Linked DNA regions of Homo sapiens: region 1 is linked to region 2. A link means that fine-mapping ties the variant in region 2 to the expression of a gene that starts in the linked region. Tissue or cell type: whole blood. Region 2 holds a variant in brackets; the other region holds the start of a gene. All regions are shown on one strand. Distances are from middle to middle.

Region 1 (8,100 bases), 210 kb after region 2:
TAAAATTTGTACATTTTGACAACTGTTTTCGCCTGATACTTTCCCTATAACTTGTCTATGTAGTTCATTGTAGGAATGTTTAAAATTATTGAGTTACCAATCGTGCAATTTTATTAGATGTATTCTCACTGTTGATACATCTCTTTTAAACAGTATTCAAAACAAGTGATTTTCTATCTCTCTGATTATTTGCTCTGTTTTTCTCTCACTTCCTAAGAGTACCAGTAATACACCTGAGAAGAACAAAATATCAGGAATTATAGAACTTTGAGATCAACAACTCATGTCATATTCTACATAAGTTACAAATCAAGGCAAGTCTTATTCTGCAAGAATCTGTTTTAAGTTTGAGTGCATTTAAAATATTAGGCATATATTATTTTAAATCCCATCATTACTTCTAGTCACTGTATAGCATAGCTGTCACTGTCTTACACAGTTCTGAAGTCTGGTTCTAAAAGATTATACTATGTAATTTCCTTCTGTAAAATATGAATTGCAATTGCTTTTTCAAATACAGAATTGGTTCATTATCTCTAGTAACACACTTTTTGTTGATATTTACATTAGTTTGGATTAATTTTCATGTAATGGAAAAGAAAGCAGGTAGAGACATCTAATCTATTAGGTCACTCCATCTCTATATATACTAGGAGAAATATAGAAAATAGAGGGGAAATTGCACTACTTCTTAATGCCCTTTCTCTTTTATTTGAAAACGTATTTCATAGTTCTAACTTGGGAGGAAAAGTGTGGGTAGTCTGTAAGATGCTTTAGTAATTAAGGGGCTAAAAAGGATACCTCAAAGGGTCTGTTTTTCCATTCTTCACAACTTAACTGCATAGCTATGGGTTTTAAGGGGAAATGCCTTGCATGGAGGCTAAGGAAGCAATTAGAAGCTCACACATTCTAAGTTCCAAATATGGCTCCTTCGGTGCTTATGACAACCTTGGGGAAAGCACTGGTGACTTAAAAAGAAAAAAAGGACAGCCATTTGACTGGCAAGTGTCAGTCATTCTGCTATTTGAAATTTGAGGCCAGGCGTGGTGGCTCACCTCGGGAGGCGGAGGCGGGCAGATCACAAGGTCAGGAGATCGAGACCATCCTGGCCAACATGGTGAAACTCCGTCTCTACTAAAAATACAAAAATTAGCTCGGTGTGGTGGCACGCACCTGTAATCCCAGCTACTGGGTAGGCTGAGGAAGGAGAATGGCTTGAACCTGGGAGGTGGAGACTGCAGTGAGCCGAGATCGTGTCACTGCACTCCAACCTGGTGACAGCGTGAGACACTGTCTCAAAAAAAAAAAAAAAAAAAGGAATTTGAGACAAAGTTTCAGAGACACTCTGCTATAGAAAGGTCTGAGAATATATTGTTTATCAAATGAAAGAAAAAGTACTTGCAATGACACTAAAGTTTATGCAGAGTTGAAAGAAGTAATAAAATTATAAATGACCTTGATTGGCAGGATGGTGTTCCTCATCCATGTCTTGCTCCATCTGTCCAATTAGTATGGGTTACTTGACTAACCAAATTCATTCATCTGTAAGTCCTTTGAACTATATACATTAAAGCTCATGCAAACCATTCCCTCAGAAGACCTTGCACCTTTTATGTATGTGAAAATCTGAAATCACACCCATTTCCCTAAGCTTCTGAGAACATTTGTATACAACAACCATCAAAAGCATATTTCCAATTATTCTTTTAGGTCCTTTTCAATTAATTAGGGGACTATGCCAATCTCAGGAAATCCTTGTGGAAAAAGAAGAAACACCATTAGAACAACACACGGAGTAACCAGTTTTGAGACTAATGCCCAAAAAATTAATTGGGAGAATTTTTTAGTAATTGAACCTGCATAGCTCTCTCTGCTGCTGAGGATTAGCACAAAGGGGCAATTTCTTAACATTACCAGGTGAACAGTAAGATCAAAGATGCTAGGCTTTGAGCTCGTGCCCATCTCCTCTGTGAGTACACAGGCAAGCACAGAAGAATTATTTTACAAAAAGCAGCATATATTATAAGCATTTTCATAAATACCTCAAATCCAACAGAGGATCTTTGTCTATTAACCAATCATTTAAAATAGCTATTGTCCTCCAAAACGCAGCCCAGTAAATATTTTTAAAATTAATATCCAGTAATATTTATACTCTTAATTTCTGAATCTGGATAAGGAAGATAACAAAACTTAAAATAACATTTTTCCCAGAGTGTTTATCAACTCTCTTACCATCAAATGTTAAATAAACTCTTGCTTGGGGCTGGGAAGATCCTTTCACACAGATAGAACAAATAAATACTCCAACCAACACGCAAATTGTCCGGAATGCCATTTCTTCAGATATGCAAGTTAATATCCAAGGGAAAATACCTTTAAGAGAGAGACAACATGTTTGTTATATCTCATTTCACATTTTAGGAGTAGGAAAAAACAGCAATCTAGACAAAACACCCTATTCACAAAAGAACCATCTGAACTTTTACAGTAATGCAAACAGTAGGAGGTGCTGTGTCTTTGCTTCTCAGATGTGAAAATGTGGATTTGATTCATTTGTGTCTGGAAGTCTTTGCAACAAGAGAAACTTTCATCTTCCAGCAAATTGATGCTACCATCAAAACAGAACAAAGCAGTGAAGAAAAACACTGATACCCAAAGGAAAGCCCAATATTTTAACGGATCTTCTCTCTAGAAATCCATTACATTAAAAAGACTTGAATAGAATTGAGCTAAAAGAATATTACTGGATGAGAACTCTTTCCCCCCACTAACGTAACAGCAGCAGCAAAATCTCACATGAGCATTCATGTGTACCTACTCACTTCAATAGTCATTAGCTCTTTTGGAGTAATTGTCTCTGGAAGTGGTGTTTCCTTACATAAATCTATGTGTGCTCAATCCTGGATCACTGAAGTCACTGGAATCAGTTATCTGCCATTTTATCCAGATGACCAACAGGCAGTTGTTAAATGATGCAGTTGAAGTAACCATGGACTAGTGCCAAATTCAAACCAATGACCTAGTGGTGAGCAATCCAGTGAGCCATGTATCCACCAATGCATATTTTAAATAAATCAACCAGAATGTGGGCTGTCAAAATTCCCAAAGATAAATCAAAGAGACAGGTGTCACTGCTTCAAACTATAGATATAAAATTGGTACATGCTATTAACTAATATCTGAATCCCAAGGAAGACCAGATAATGTGTTACCATAAACCTACAGGAGCTCTAGTGGCTACATCATGTAAAATAAACTCAGGACCATTAAAGAAACACAATCATTTTGCTTCTACCATAATTACACAATAAAGTGACCCAAGAGTCCAGTAAAGAAATTTATTTTTACAGGTTACAACAATGCTGATCTTCATTATTTGGCTTTTCAAATTAAAATTTCATAGTCAAAATTATTAAATTCTTTGTAAGAACCACTAACAACTGAAAAAGACAGCTTCATTAATACAGAATAAAAAGAATTAAATGGAATATGCAATTTTAAACAAAAATTGTAAGTAGATTTCCTAGGTGGTGCATATGTTATGAGAGTTAGAAATGAAATTGTACGCTTCTTTTACCACACAGATGGAGGAAACTCTAGAGATGTTTGTGTTGGTAATTTTCAAAAGAAACAGTTTCTTCCTGCTTCCACAACCTCTTCACCCTGTCATCCCTAAATTAACTTAGAAAGAAACTGATTTTATGGGTGACTTTCCCTCAGTAATTTACCCCTTGGTTCTGTTGACTTCATAGTTAAAGCCAAAAGAAAAAAACTATTAATATGCCTAACCTTTGTTATGTTTACTGAGCAAGTTGATATTATTTACACATTTTTTTTACATATTGGTATCTTACCTTATATGTTTCTCCCAAAAGTACATATACAACCAATTGCAAAGAATACTGGTGATACAATGGCAGGTGAAACGAAGATAGTCTACAGGGCAATTTGATTTACATCCCACCTAGTGATGAGGAGTGAAAGACTGAAAGCCAAGTGTCTTAAATACACCCCCGCCTCCCCAACAGTATCTTACAACTTCTTCCCTTTAACTCAGACACAGACGTTCCTCTTGGTGTTTTCACTTCTGCTGATCGCAAACTAACAACACATTAAGAAAAGAATTCTCTTATCTCCTCTGGAGCAATTTTGCCTTTGAAGGCACTGTAATACTCAACTTGAAACTCTCCGCAGGTGTCACCGCCTAAAGAAACAACTCGAGCAGGGCTCTCAGCAAGGGGAAAGCTTCCCTGACAAACCGCGTGTGTTCTTAAGAAAATGTCCAGGCTTGAGCATACCAATGTATGAAAAATCAATATACAGGCCAAAAAAGTTATACTTTGCTAAATCTGTAATGCGGAAAATGACCAATTTAGCTTACCGAGGTTGAAAGAAATCAGCACGGAAAAGTCATCAGTTTGCTACCGGGGTTGGATGCGCTTGTGTCTCCAGTCCTTTTCCCAGACGACCTTATTTTCTAGCACGTCGCAAAGGTGAAATTCTTTCTTCCCGGTCCTCTGAGTTTCTTTGTAAAGGAATCTCAGCGCTGCAGTGCCGCGGCACCCGGAGCTCTTCTCCGCGTCGCTCAATCAAGCACCTCGGAGTGAATGGAAAGTGGCCGGAGGCCGGGGGCGAGCGCTCTTGGTGTCCGATTACAGCGCCGCGGCGCGCGGCTCCGGCTGCCCCGGCGCGCCGCCCTGCAGGCTCGCATCACCACCGCGCAGCCCCGGCCGCATCTCCGCCAGCCGCGAGGCCCCACCCCGAGCGCGCCCGCGAGAGCCTGGCAGGGAGCCGCGGGGGCGGACCGGGCGGGGCCGACCCTTAGAGCTCGCGGCTGGCCAGACGCAAGAATGCGCGGCCGCAGGCTGGAGCCCTAGCTCCGCAACCCTGCTCCTTTCGCAGTCCGCGGCGGAGTGAGCAACTTGCTGGGTGCGCTCCACGGTTTTTGTTGCCGGCGGCTCTCGAAGACTTACACAGGCTTTGCCTGGCCGTAAATATCAAAGTGCAAAGCAGTTGTGGTTTTTTATTTTTGCCAGGGAAGGATCACTGCAGCCTTTTAAGGCAAAGAGATGCGTTTTTAAAAGGACGTGAGTTTTGTCCTTATTCTGCTGCGTTTTTTTTTTGTTTTTTGTTTTTTGTTTTTTGTTTTGTTTTTGGAGAGGGAATCTCACTCTGTCGCCAGGCTGGAGTGCAGTGCAGTGGTGTGATCATGGCTCACTGCAACCTCCGCCTCCCGGGTTCAAGCGATTCTCCTGCCTCAGCCTCCTGAATAGCTGGGACTACAGGCTCCCACCACCACGCCCAGCTAATTTTTGTATTTTTAGTAGAGACAGGGCCAGGATGGTCTGGATCTCTTGACCTAATGGTCCGCCCGCCTCAGCCGCCCAAAGTGCCGAGAGCCACCGCGCCGGGCCTCTGTTGCGTGTTTTCTAAAACAGGTCAAGATAAACGACAATCTTGTTGCACAAGTGTATCCTTTTAATGGGTATTGTTTCCTATTGAGTTTCCTTAATGCCCTGAAAGCAGTAATTCTGTTGACCCCTCCACGTTGACTCATATCCAGTACGTTGTCCCCAACCATACTCCCAAACATAATTACACGAAGAAATTATTTGACAATTCTATGTGGAGAGGCTGTTCTGAGTTATGCCAACAGATTGCCATAACCACACATCTACAGAAATACATCAGAGGTATTTTTCCAGCATTACTTTCAGGTACACTCGTTAAACTCTGGAACTGACTTTGATGTTTAAGTGAAAATTACTTCTCCGGACCACAATAAACTAGATGTTTAAACATCGGGAGAAATGAGCTTTGATCCCCATAAAACAAGCAGGCACTTGCTTAAAATCACTGTGGGGCACAGCCCAGCAGATGTCACTCTACAGAAGGAACGTGGAGTGTAATATCTCCACCTTATACCTGACAATTCACATAATGAAACAATCATTAAATTCTTATAAACTGTATCATAGAAAACCCCTCTGGGGGTGCAAAATCATTGTTCAGTGGGAAAGTTGAATGAAATCTCAGGTAGGAGGAAGAGGTGAGTGAGACACATCTTTCATGTGTCTGGGGCCCACCTCTTGTGTTCAGTAAACATACACGTGTCTCAGACTCACGCTGCATAGTCAAGGAACGAAGGATCAAGTCAAATAATGCAAATTTATGAGTTCAAAAATACTATTCCAGGGCTAATATTATCTCCAAACGTCAAAAAATTAATATAGTAACAACAGTTAAAATTATTTTTTGTGATGATGCGTGAGAAGATCCTTGACATAAATTTGTAATAAGGAATTTAACCCCCCAAAAACTGACAATATTAAAATCCAGATGTCAATGTGAATAAGCACTGTGCGTGCTTCTCTGAAATACTTCTGAAACTGAGTAAGATCCAGGTTATATACTCTCCACTATTATCCTCCTTCTGATATCTCATTCGGCATTTATATATTAAGCAGGGAGAAGAATAAATCATTAGAAAGATGAGTGTGTGGATTAAATTAATTTAGAAATGTGGAGCTGTTAGAAATTGATCAGCAAATTCACGTAAGATGGAATTCGTTTATACATTTTAAGTTTGAGAAAACCACGATAAAGAGTTGCAAGATGAAATGCATCTCAAACGGTGTATTTACAAAGGAGCTTAATTCCAAACTCAATTTACAAACACCAATGAATTAGCTCAATCTGTTACACATTCAGGGGTTTGGAGGCCTTGACAAATAGCTTAGATTTAATCACAGCCCATGAAATTTGTGCCGAAATTCCCTCAATATTGCTCAAATAAACCTCTTTTCAATGTGCTCCTGGGATTTAATGGTATTTGCTTAGCTCTGAGACGTTTACAGTTGGCCACACCTCAAAATGAATCATAAAAATACTGATAGGCTTTAGCCAAGATAGATTCAAGCGCAAGGACACAGTGCTCATGCTTGCCAGAGACTTAGGCCACAGAGTGGAATTTTAACAGTGGCACTAGAAGCCCCTAAGATTAATCTCTGCCCACATTTCCCCACACTGCTTAAAACACCTTGACAAAACAAGACTTGCCTAAGAAACATTTCTGGGCACTACCACTTTTTTAAGACTTCAGCTTTGACTGTCCTTACAAGTGGAAAACAACAGCTAATTGAGAACGCTGTTTTCGGTAAGGGGGACACTAAATGGATCTACAGGAGTAGTGGCACAACTAAATTTAGAGAGCACTAATTACAATGTTTGCACCCAGCAAAACGTTTCAGACGAGCGGCCAAACTAAAATACTTAGGATAACTTTTATTAAGACGTTTTAGAAATGGTGCAGTATCTTACACACTGAAGTGTCTCTGCCTGCCAAGGTGTAGTGGGCATATTTTTAATATTTTATGTTTTTGATGGTCCTGAGGAATGCTATTTAACTTAAAACTCTAGCACCGATGTTGAGTTACATACTTTTCTCCAGGAGTTTCTGCAGCTATACATTATCTTATTTCAAATTTAAAGAAAACAGATTTTTCCCTATTATACAGATGAGTCATGTAAATAAACTTTACCCTAACCAGAGAATATTAATCATTCAGAGGTTAAAAATTGTCTTATTATTTAGTCATAAAAACTGATATTTGTAATAGAAAATAGATTGTGTATTTGCGAGGTACTTTGCTTATTATCTGCATAGCATTCTTTAATGAAGTTACAATTTTCAATGAGAGAACGTTGAAGGTTTGCCCAAAGTCAAATGGGTAGTAAATATCAGAATAGGAAGAGAAACTCAAGCGTGATTGCCGTAATGTCTCAGGTTTTTCAATAAGTTTCAATACTTCCTCTTACCTTTTTTGCTTAACATTTTTCTCCTCTTTTCTACTTCCCTCTCTTTCTCCTTCACTCAACTTCCATATGCCATCCTTTTAAGTTTCCTGAACTGTATCTTTGGAAAGTCTCAACTTCCAATGGTTACTTACTTTATTTACATCAGCCTTACGTCTCCTTGGGTTACATTAGCAGCTCTGAGACCAAGCCGGTCAAACAGGTCTGGTCTAGAAATCTGTGTGTGAAACTGCTACCTGCACAGCAAATAGGCTTTAATATTTCCTCTATCAAATCATTTCT
Region 2 (8,112 bases):
TGTTGAAAAGATAAATAAGCGTTTAAAACCTACACATATCATGTCTGAAGAATAGACTTGTGGGTCTATTGCATCAGACGTGGAAGGGGCAATAGGGGCAATATTTTATACCTAAAGAAAATCAACATCAGTTTTACCCTTCACCTTCAGCCAGCCCATTAAGTGTGTATGAGAGAGAGAGAGAGAGAGTGCACGTGTGTGTGTACAGGGTTGCCCCACCTAAGAGAGAGAGAGAGAGAGAGAGAGAAAAAGAGAAAGAGAGTGTGTTTACAGTGTTGCCCTACCTGAGAGAGAGAGAGAGAGAGAGAAAGTGTGTGTGTGTGTGTGTGTGTGTGTGTGTGTGTACAGGGTTACAACTAAACTGACCCACAAGTCTCTGAATTTTAGTGAGGCACAGACCTAAAGGAGAGCATCATCAGAGTAGTGTGCTTGCTTTTCATATTATATAATGATTTAATGGAACCACAGATGGTGATTAACACTGCAAACATTAAACAGAAGAAAGATTCCAAATGTATTAACTTAATCAAAGCATATTTATTGAATATCTGCTATGTGTCTGGAACTATCCTATTTGTTTTAGGAGAAATGAGAGATGTATAAATAAGGAAGTCTTCAAGGAAGTAATTTTCTAGTTAGTGAGATAAGACAAACACAAAAGAAACTTAATAGAGGAGATAAATGGCTTATTTGAGCATATTAAGATATAATACAACCCAGCAGGAAATAATACATGTAAATAGTTTCCAAGGCTATGTTCAGAAATATTTTCTCAATGTAGTTACCAGGGGTGGGGGAAGGCAGGGGTGGGCAATGGGGAGATGTAAGTTAGAGGATACAGAGTAGCAGATATTAGGGTAAACAAGTCTAGCAATCTAATGCAGATGAGGTTTAGAGTTAATATATTGGCTCACGCCTGTAACCCCAGCACTTTGAGAGGCCAAGGCAGGCAGATCACCTGAGGTCAGGAGTTTACTACCAGCCTAGCCAACATGGTGAAACCCCATCTTTACTCAAAACACAAAAATTAGCTAGGCATAGTGGTGCACGCCTGTGCTGCAGGCTGAGGCAGGAGAATCGCTTGAACCCGGGAGGCAGAGGTTGCAGTGAACTGACATTGGGCCACTACATTCCAGCCTGGGTGACAGAGTGAGACTCCATCTCAAATAATAATAATAATAATAGTAATAATAATATACTGTATTCAGAAATTGTGCTAAATGAGTAGATGTTAGCTGCACTTGCCACACACACTGAAAAAAGGGTAACTATGTGAGATGATGGATATGTTAATTTGCTTCACTCTAGTAACCATTTCACTGTCTCTATGTATCCCATATCATGTTACATACCTTAAATATAGACAATAAAATTTATTAAAATATTTTTTTCAAACTTGGGCATTTAAGACTTGGTAATATGAGTGATACCAAGCTGAAACACAAAAGAGATTGTTATATTTACAAATTTTTAAAATATCACAATTACAAAAACAAAGATATTCCAAAATAAGAACTCTCTTGAATTTTCTAATTAAGAGAAACAGCAGTGTTCTCCTATGGGCTCTAACAACGCATCTGCATACTGATTTTCCTTTCTCAGCTTTTATATTTAAAGGACATGTATCGGCTTCTCCTTGGTGTTCTTAAGTCCCCAACACTTTCAAAAGTTGTATGTGATCTATGGGGAAATATGATTGATACCAAATTGTATTCAGGCCATCAAGTAAAATCTCAACATTTCTTACTGTTCCTTCTGAAAGTCACAATTCCTATTCCAAACAGTTATTTCTTATTCTTTTTTAGGCTTTGAGGCCCAACTTAATAACTTTGCTCAATAAAAATTGTGCTGTTTTTAGTTTTCCATAAAAAGTTAATATAAAAGTAGAAGCATAAAAAAATACACCAGAAGCATAATGGAGTATAGAAATGTGTAAAATGAATTACTTTTCTTTATCCTGTTCTTTTTATTCTTTATATTAGTGGATGGCTCCTTCCCTTACCCAGCTGTGAATAAGATCAACTTAAGTTGCTTTCAATTTAGTGGGGATACAAACAAGCAAGTAGGAAATTGTGATACACTGTTATAATCAGGGAAGGGCAAGAAGCCTGTGGAAAAATCAGACTGAGAAAATTGAAAAAAAAAAAAAAACAGGAAACATCAGAAAAAATAGTTGTTAATGAAACCAAATCAGAGGGAATTCTAAGCAGAATTAACATAGTATGAAAAGACTTAGAGAGGAGTGAGATTCACTGGAGGAGCAAAAACAAGTTTCATATGGCTGTAGTTTCCAGCACAAGTTAGGGACTGGCAAGAATGAAGCTGAGATGAACAGTGGGGTGAACAAGGAAGGATTCTGTAAATCAGGCTAAGAATCACTGAACTTGTTGAGGATGAGGTGTAAACATTGGGGGTTTTAGGAAGGAGGATGACACAACCAGATAATATTTAAAAGATCATTCTGGCTATTGTGTAACACATTTACTGAAGGATGTTATAACAAGTTCCATAAAATATATTAGTGATCAGAACAAAGGCAGTAGAAGTTCACAGTGAAAGTGGACAGTAATCAAGAAACATTGAGGGAGTTGAATTGACAGGACTTGTTGATCGATTTGTAGGATATAAGAGGATTTTTATTTAGATAGATTAGATATTTAGATAGATTAGATAGTTGGGTAACATGACATAGGCAACACAGAAGTAGACATGGTTTTGGCTGGGTGAAGTGATGTGTTCAGCCTTAGAAGTACTGCTAGGTGCATATAGAATGTAGAAGTATAACTCAAGAGAGAAAGAGACAACTGGATAAAGACATAACTGAAGCCATGGACATGAATGAAATCATGCAGGGGAAGAATATAGCATAAAAAAATAAATAAATAAATAATAAAACAGTCTAAACAAAGTCCCAAGGAGCGTTAACTTTAAAGATGGGGCTGGAAGAAGCAGCATTTCCAAAGGACTTAGAAAGAATGCCAGGAAGAGGAAGAGGAGAACAGTCACAAAAGGTAAGAGAAGAGTGTGCTTTAGGGAGAAGCATTGGTGATGAGCAGCCCCCATCCTTGTGAGAGACTGTGGAGGGAAGCAATTGCAGTAGAGTCATGGTCAAGGAAACCAGATTGCTAAAGAGTGAGTGAAGTGTTAAGTATTTAAAACATATATGAAAC[TC/T]TTTCAAGAAGTATGGCCACAAAAGGGAAGTCATCAACTAATTTTCATCATATATGTAAATTAAAACACTAAAAGAAGGTATCCAGGATATTGTGACATGGAGAAAGTCTCCTAACTGTTCCTCTTTAAGGGCAACCTAAGTGAGCACACTTTATCTTATCTGCAAGCAGACTATCTTGATGAGCGTTAGAAAGCCTAAAAACCCAACTTAGCACAACCATACAAGAGTATGCTCCCACACTGTGTCCGTCTCACCCTTACCCAAGTGAAGCTGCAGTTTCTAATACCTTTGTTTTTCCTCTCCACTCATAATCAACGTAAAATTGGATCCTCCATTGTGACTGAGGTGAGGTAGTATGTAAACAGAGATCATTCAACCTAGGGGTTGGTAAGAGTCCCTCCTTTTCTTTCTTGTGGCACCAGATAGGAGGAATTTGGACTTGAACTTCTAGAGATCTCAGGACAATCACCAGAAATAGACTTAACGTGGCCAGTGCTTCATGGCATTTTAGTACTTTGAAAGCTGCAGTCAAGAAGGGCGGTGATCTCTTGATGAATTTCAAGGTTCATTTTCTGATCAGGTTGAGTAGTATCTTTTATGGACACAACTATATCTATTCCAGGAGCTTCCTCAATTGAGTTTCCTTCCTATATTTTCTTCTGGATGTTATGAAGGTGATATGATTAGGTTTTTGTCCCCATCCAAATCTTGTCTTGAATTGTCTCCATAATCCCCATGCATCATAGGAGAGAACTGGTGGGAGATGATTGGATCGTGGAGGCAGTGTCCCCATGCTGTTCTCATGATACTGAGTTCTCACAAGATCTGATGGTTTTATAAGGGTCTGACAGTTCCTTCTATACACACGATCTCTCCTGCCACCATGTGAAGAATGTCCTTGCTTCCTCTTCACCTTCCTCCATGATTGCAAGTTTCCTGAGGCCTCCCCAGCCATGTGGAACTGTGAGTCAATTAAACTGCTTTCCTTTATAAATTACCCAGTCTCGGGTGTTTCTTTATTGCAGTTTAAGAACGGACTAAAACAGAAGGCAAAGCTACTTTGGAATCATAATGTATTCTGATACTATAATCACTCAGGATAACCTATCACTGAGACAAACGTGTGCAGTGACCCTGTCTTTTCTGGGATGAGTCCACCTTAATCATTTTGATTGAAATGACTACCTACAGTGGCATTTTACCAGGTGGGAAAAAAAAAAACTATTCAAGATTGTTAATCTCCTTACAGATAACAGAAGTTTGATATCTCAAGGACATAGAAAATGAGCCTAATTTGAGGTTCAGTCACAATATCTCAATTTATTTAAAAACCAGTCAAGTTTCAGTTCTTTTTTGATGAACACTCTGTGTGATCTGATATACTGCTATGCTTGTGTAAATGTCCCTTCTCAACTTAAAAGCTTTTCTGGCCTGGCATAGGTCACCAAAATAGATGGATTTACCAGAATTAGCATCTTTTTCATATCTTTGACCAACATCAGAATATTTCTATTGAGAACATACAATCAGTATTGAATCTTTATCTTATAAAACACACACACACACACACACACACACACACACACACACACACACACTCAACTCGAAATGGATTGAAGACTTAAACATCAGACCTGAAACCATAAAAATCCTAGAAGAAAACATAGGCTAAAAGCTTCTTGATCTTGGTCTGGGCAATGATATTTGGGATATCCTACCAAAAGCTCAGGGTACAAAAGTAACAATAAAGTGGGACTCCACCAAACTAAAAAGCTTCTACACAAAAAAGGAAACAAGTACCAAAATGGAAAGACAGTCAAGAGATTGAAAGAAAATATTGCAAGCCATGTATCTGATAAGGATTTAACATCCCCAACATATAAAGAGCCTACACAATTCAGTAGCCAAAAAAAAGAACAAAAGAAAAAAGAAAAGCAATCTAATTAAAAAGTAAAAAATGGACAAAGGATCTGAGTAGACATTTTTTCAAAGGAGACAAAAATGGCCAACAAGTATATGTAAAGGTTCTCAACATCACTAATCATCAGGGACATGCACAGCAAAACTACAGTGAGCTATCACCTCACACCTGTTAAGATGGCTGTTAATGAAAAGATAAGAGATAACAAGTGCTGGCGAGAATGTGGAGAAAAGGGAACTTTTGCATGCTCTTAGGGGAATACAATTATGGGAAAAAGCATGTAGATTCATCAAAAATAAAAAATTAACAATTAATAGAACTACCATATGATCCAGCAAGTCCCCATCTGGGTATATACCAGAGGAAATGAACTCAGTACCTCAGAGTGATATTCTGCACTCCCGTGTTCATTGTAGTATTATTCATGTTAGGCAAAACAAGAAAACAACCTAAGTTTTGTAGACAGGTGAATGGATAACAAAATTACAGTATGTAATGAATATAAATAAAACTTATATAAGTTTAAGGCTACATAATACCTCATTTTGTGTGTGTGTGTGTGTGTGTGTGTATATATAAACTTGTGTGTGTGTATATATATATAACTTGTATATAACATATGTAACTTATATAACATACACACACACACACACAAAATGAGGTATTATGCAGCCTTAAGAAAGGAAATTCTGCCACTTACAACAACATGGATGAACCTGGAGGACATTATGCAAAATTAATAAACCAGACACATGGAAATTTTCTAAGAGAACATTTCAGGTGCTCTCATGACAATAATAAAGTAAGTGAGGAAATGAATATGTTAATTTGCTTATTTTATTCCATATATGTATTAAAACATCATGTTGTACATGTTAAATATACGGTTTCTACAAAAAATAAAAAATATGTGTTAAGCAAAGTGAATTATTTCAGAACCTCAATTGGCTTACATCATAATCGAATTGCACTTCATTGAGGATAAACTCCTGGAGGGAAGAGTTCTTTCCACATGGTTATCTCCCGTTTATTGTCTGGCATGTTTGCTTGTACACAGTAATTTCTCAATAAAGTTTTATGGATTTTAAATTGCTCCATAAGAACAAATGCCTAGAAACTATTGGAGAATTAGAACAAGAGAATTTTCTAGCTGTGTGCCAAAGAAGATAATATTGTCTTCTTAATATCTTAATATTATCTTATTAATATGGGAGGTACTGCAAGAATACAACTTTAATAATTGTACCATATAATTCTGATAATTTCTAGTCAGAGCTGTACTTTTTATGTTAATAGCAAGCATTTTCAAATGCTGAAAGTATAATAAATGCTGCAGTCTTGTCTGTTGTAAATGCATGTTTGTTATTACCAAGCAGCTCTAGTTTACAAATGAATTCTTACAGTGATCTAACTTCTTATATGCACAATTAACTCTGATTGGCTCCTCAAAATCCCTGGGGCACCCGTTGGCTCTCTGCTCACACTTGGTCCCCCTGTGGTGTAGTCATCACATCACACACTTCATTGTTAGGCAAACCCACATGAACCCTTTCTTCCCCTGAATCACATGCAATACTGCCAACCTCTGTGTCATCTTCTTGAGTCGCTACTCCCTAGTGGTCTTGCATCTGGAAGAGGAACTAGGAGAATCAGCAGTCAGGCCCAGAATTCCTGGATATCTCTTGTTGCCAACTGGGATTCACATTTGGGTTGGACTAATCATGTTTTTGCCATCCCTGAACTAAGTGCAGTGGACCTAACTGTATCCTGCCAACTAAATCTTAAATCCCCAAGCCTCCTGCCGTACACAGCCAAAATTTACAATTCCTAATTTTTATTCCTTATTCCATTGTACTAGGTCACTCCCATTTTCTTTATTTTAACCATTATTCAATAGGGGTAACAATACTAAATGTATCTCAAAGAGCTTTATCTTGTCAGAGGATTGAAAAGTGAGGTAAAAGAATTTTAAGGCAATAAAGAAGCTTTATTTTTTATTTTTATTATTATACTTTAAGTTCTAGGGTTACAGGTGCACAACATGCAGGTTTGTTACATATGTATATATGTGCCATGTTGGTGCGCTGCACCCATTAACTCGTCATTTACATTAGGTATACCTCCTAATGCTATCCCTCTCCCCTCCCCCCACCCCACAACAGGCCCCGGTGTGTGATGTTCCCCACCCTGTGTCCAAGTGTTCTCATTGTTCAATTCCCACCTATGAGTGAGAACATGCGGAGTTTGGTTTTCTGTCCTTGCAATAGTTTACTGAGAATGACGGTTTCCAGCTTCATTCATGTCTCTACAAAAGACATGAACTCATCCTTTTTTAATGGCTGCATAGTATTCCATGGTGTATATGTGCCACATTTTCTTAATCCAGTCTATCATTGTTGGACATTTGGGTTGGTTTCAGGTCTTTGCTATTTTGAATAGTGCCACAATAAACATATGTGTGCATGTGTCTTTATAGCAGCATGATTTATAATCCTTTGGGTATATACCCAGTAATGGGATGGCTGGGTCAAATGGTATTTCTAGTTCTAGATCCTTGAAGAATCGCCACTGTCTTCCACAATGGTTGAACTAGTTTACCTTCCCACCAACAGTGTAAAAGTGTTCCTATTTCTCCACATCCTCTCCAGCATCTGTTGTTTCCTGACTTTTACTGATCGTCATTCTAACTGGTGTGAGATGGTATCTCATTGTGGTTTTGATTTGCATTTCTCTGATAGCCAGTGATGATGACCTTTTTTCATGTGTCTGTTGGCTGCATAAATGTCTTCTTTTGAGAAGTGTCTGTTCATATCCTTTGCCCACTTTTTGATGGGGTTGTTTGATTTTTTTCTTCCTTTCTAACTTTGCAAGGCCAATTTTACTTTGGATGTGACTGAATTTTAAATTGTCAAAAGCAGGGGGAGGAGCCAAGATGGCCAAATAGGAACAGCTCCAGTCTACAGCTCCCAGCGTGAGCGACGCAGAAGACGGGTGATTTCTGCATTTCCATCTGAGGTAC

What was found. PIP is the estimated chance that this variant, and not a neighbour inherited with it, causes the effect.
Region 1: SEMA3C starts here. The variant in region 2 is fine-mapped to the expression of SEMA3C in whole blood (TOPMed, PIP above 0.99).

The regions. Positions count from the first base shown.
Region 1 is chr7:80,914,444-80,922,543 of GRCh38, forward strand. It overlaps SEMA3C (semaphorin 3C), which reads right to left and starts at 4,608. Exons shown (of 18, transcript NM_006379.5): 1 at 4,385-4,608; 2 at 2,236-2,376. The coding sequence starts at 2,338. RefSeq lists an enhancer at 4,128-4,197 and a silencer at 4,745-4,874.
Region 2 is chr7:80,705,096-80,713,207 of GRCh38, forward strand. No RefSeq gene overlaps it. Among named protein-coding and RNA genes, the nearest start is that of CD36, 71 kb to the left of the region's middle. The variant TC/T (reference allele first, on the strand shown) is at 3,171.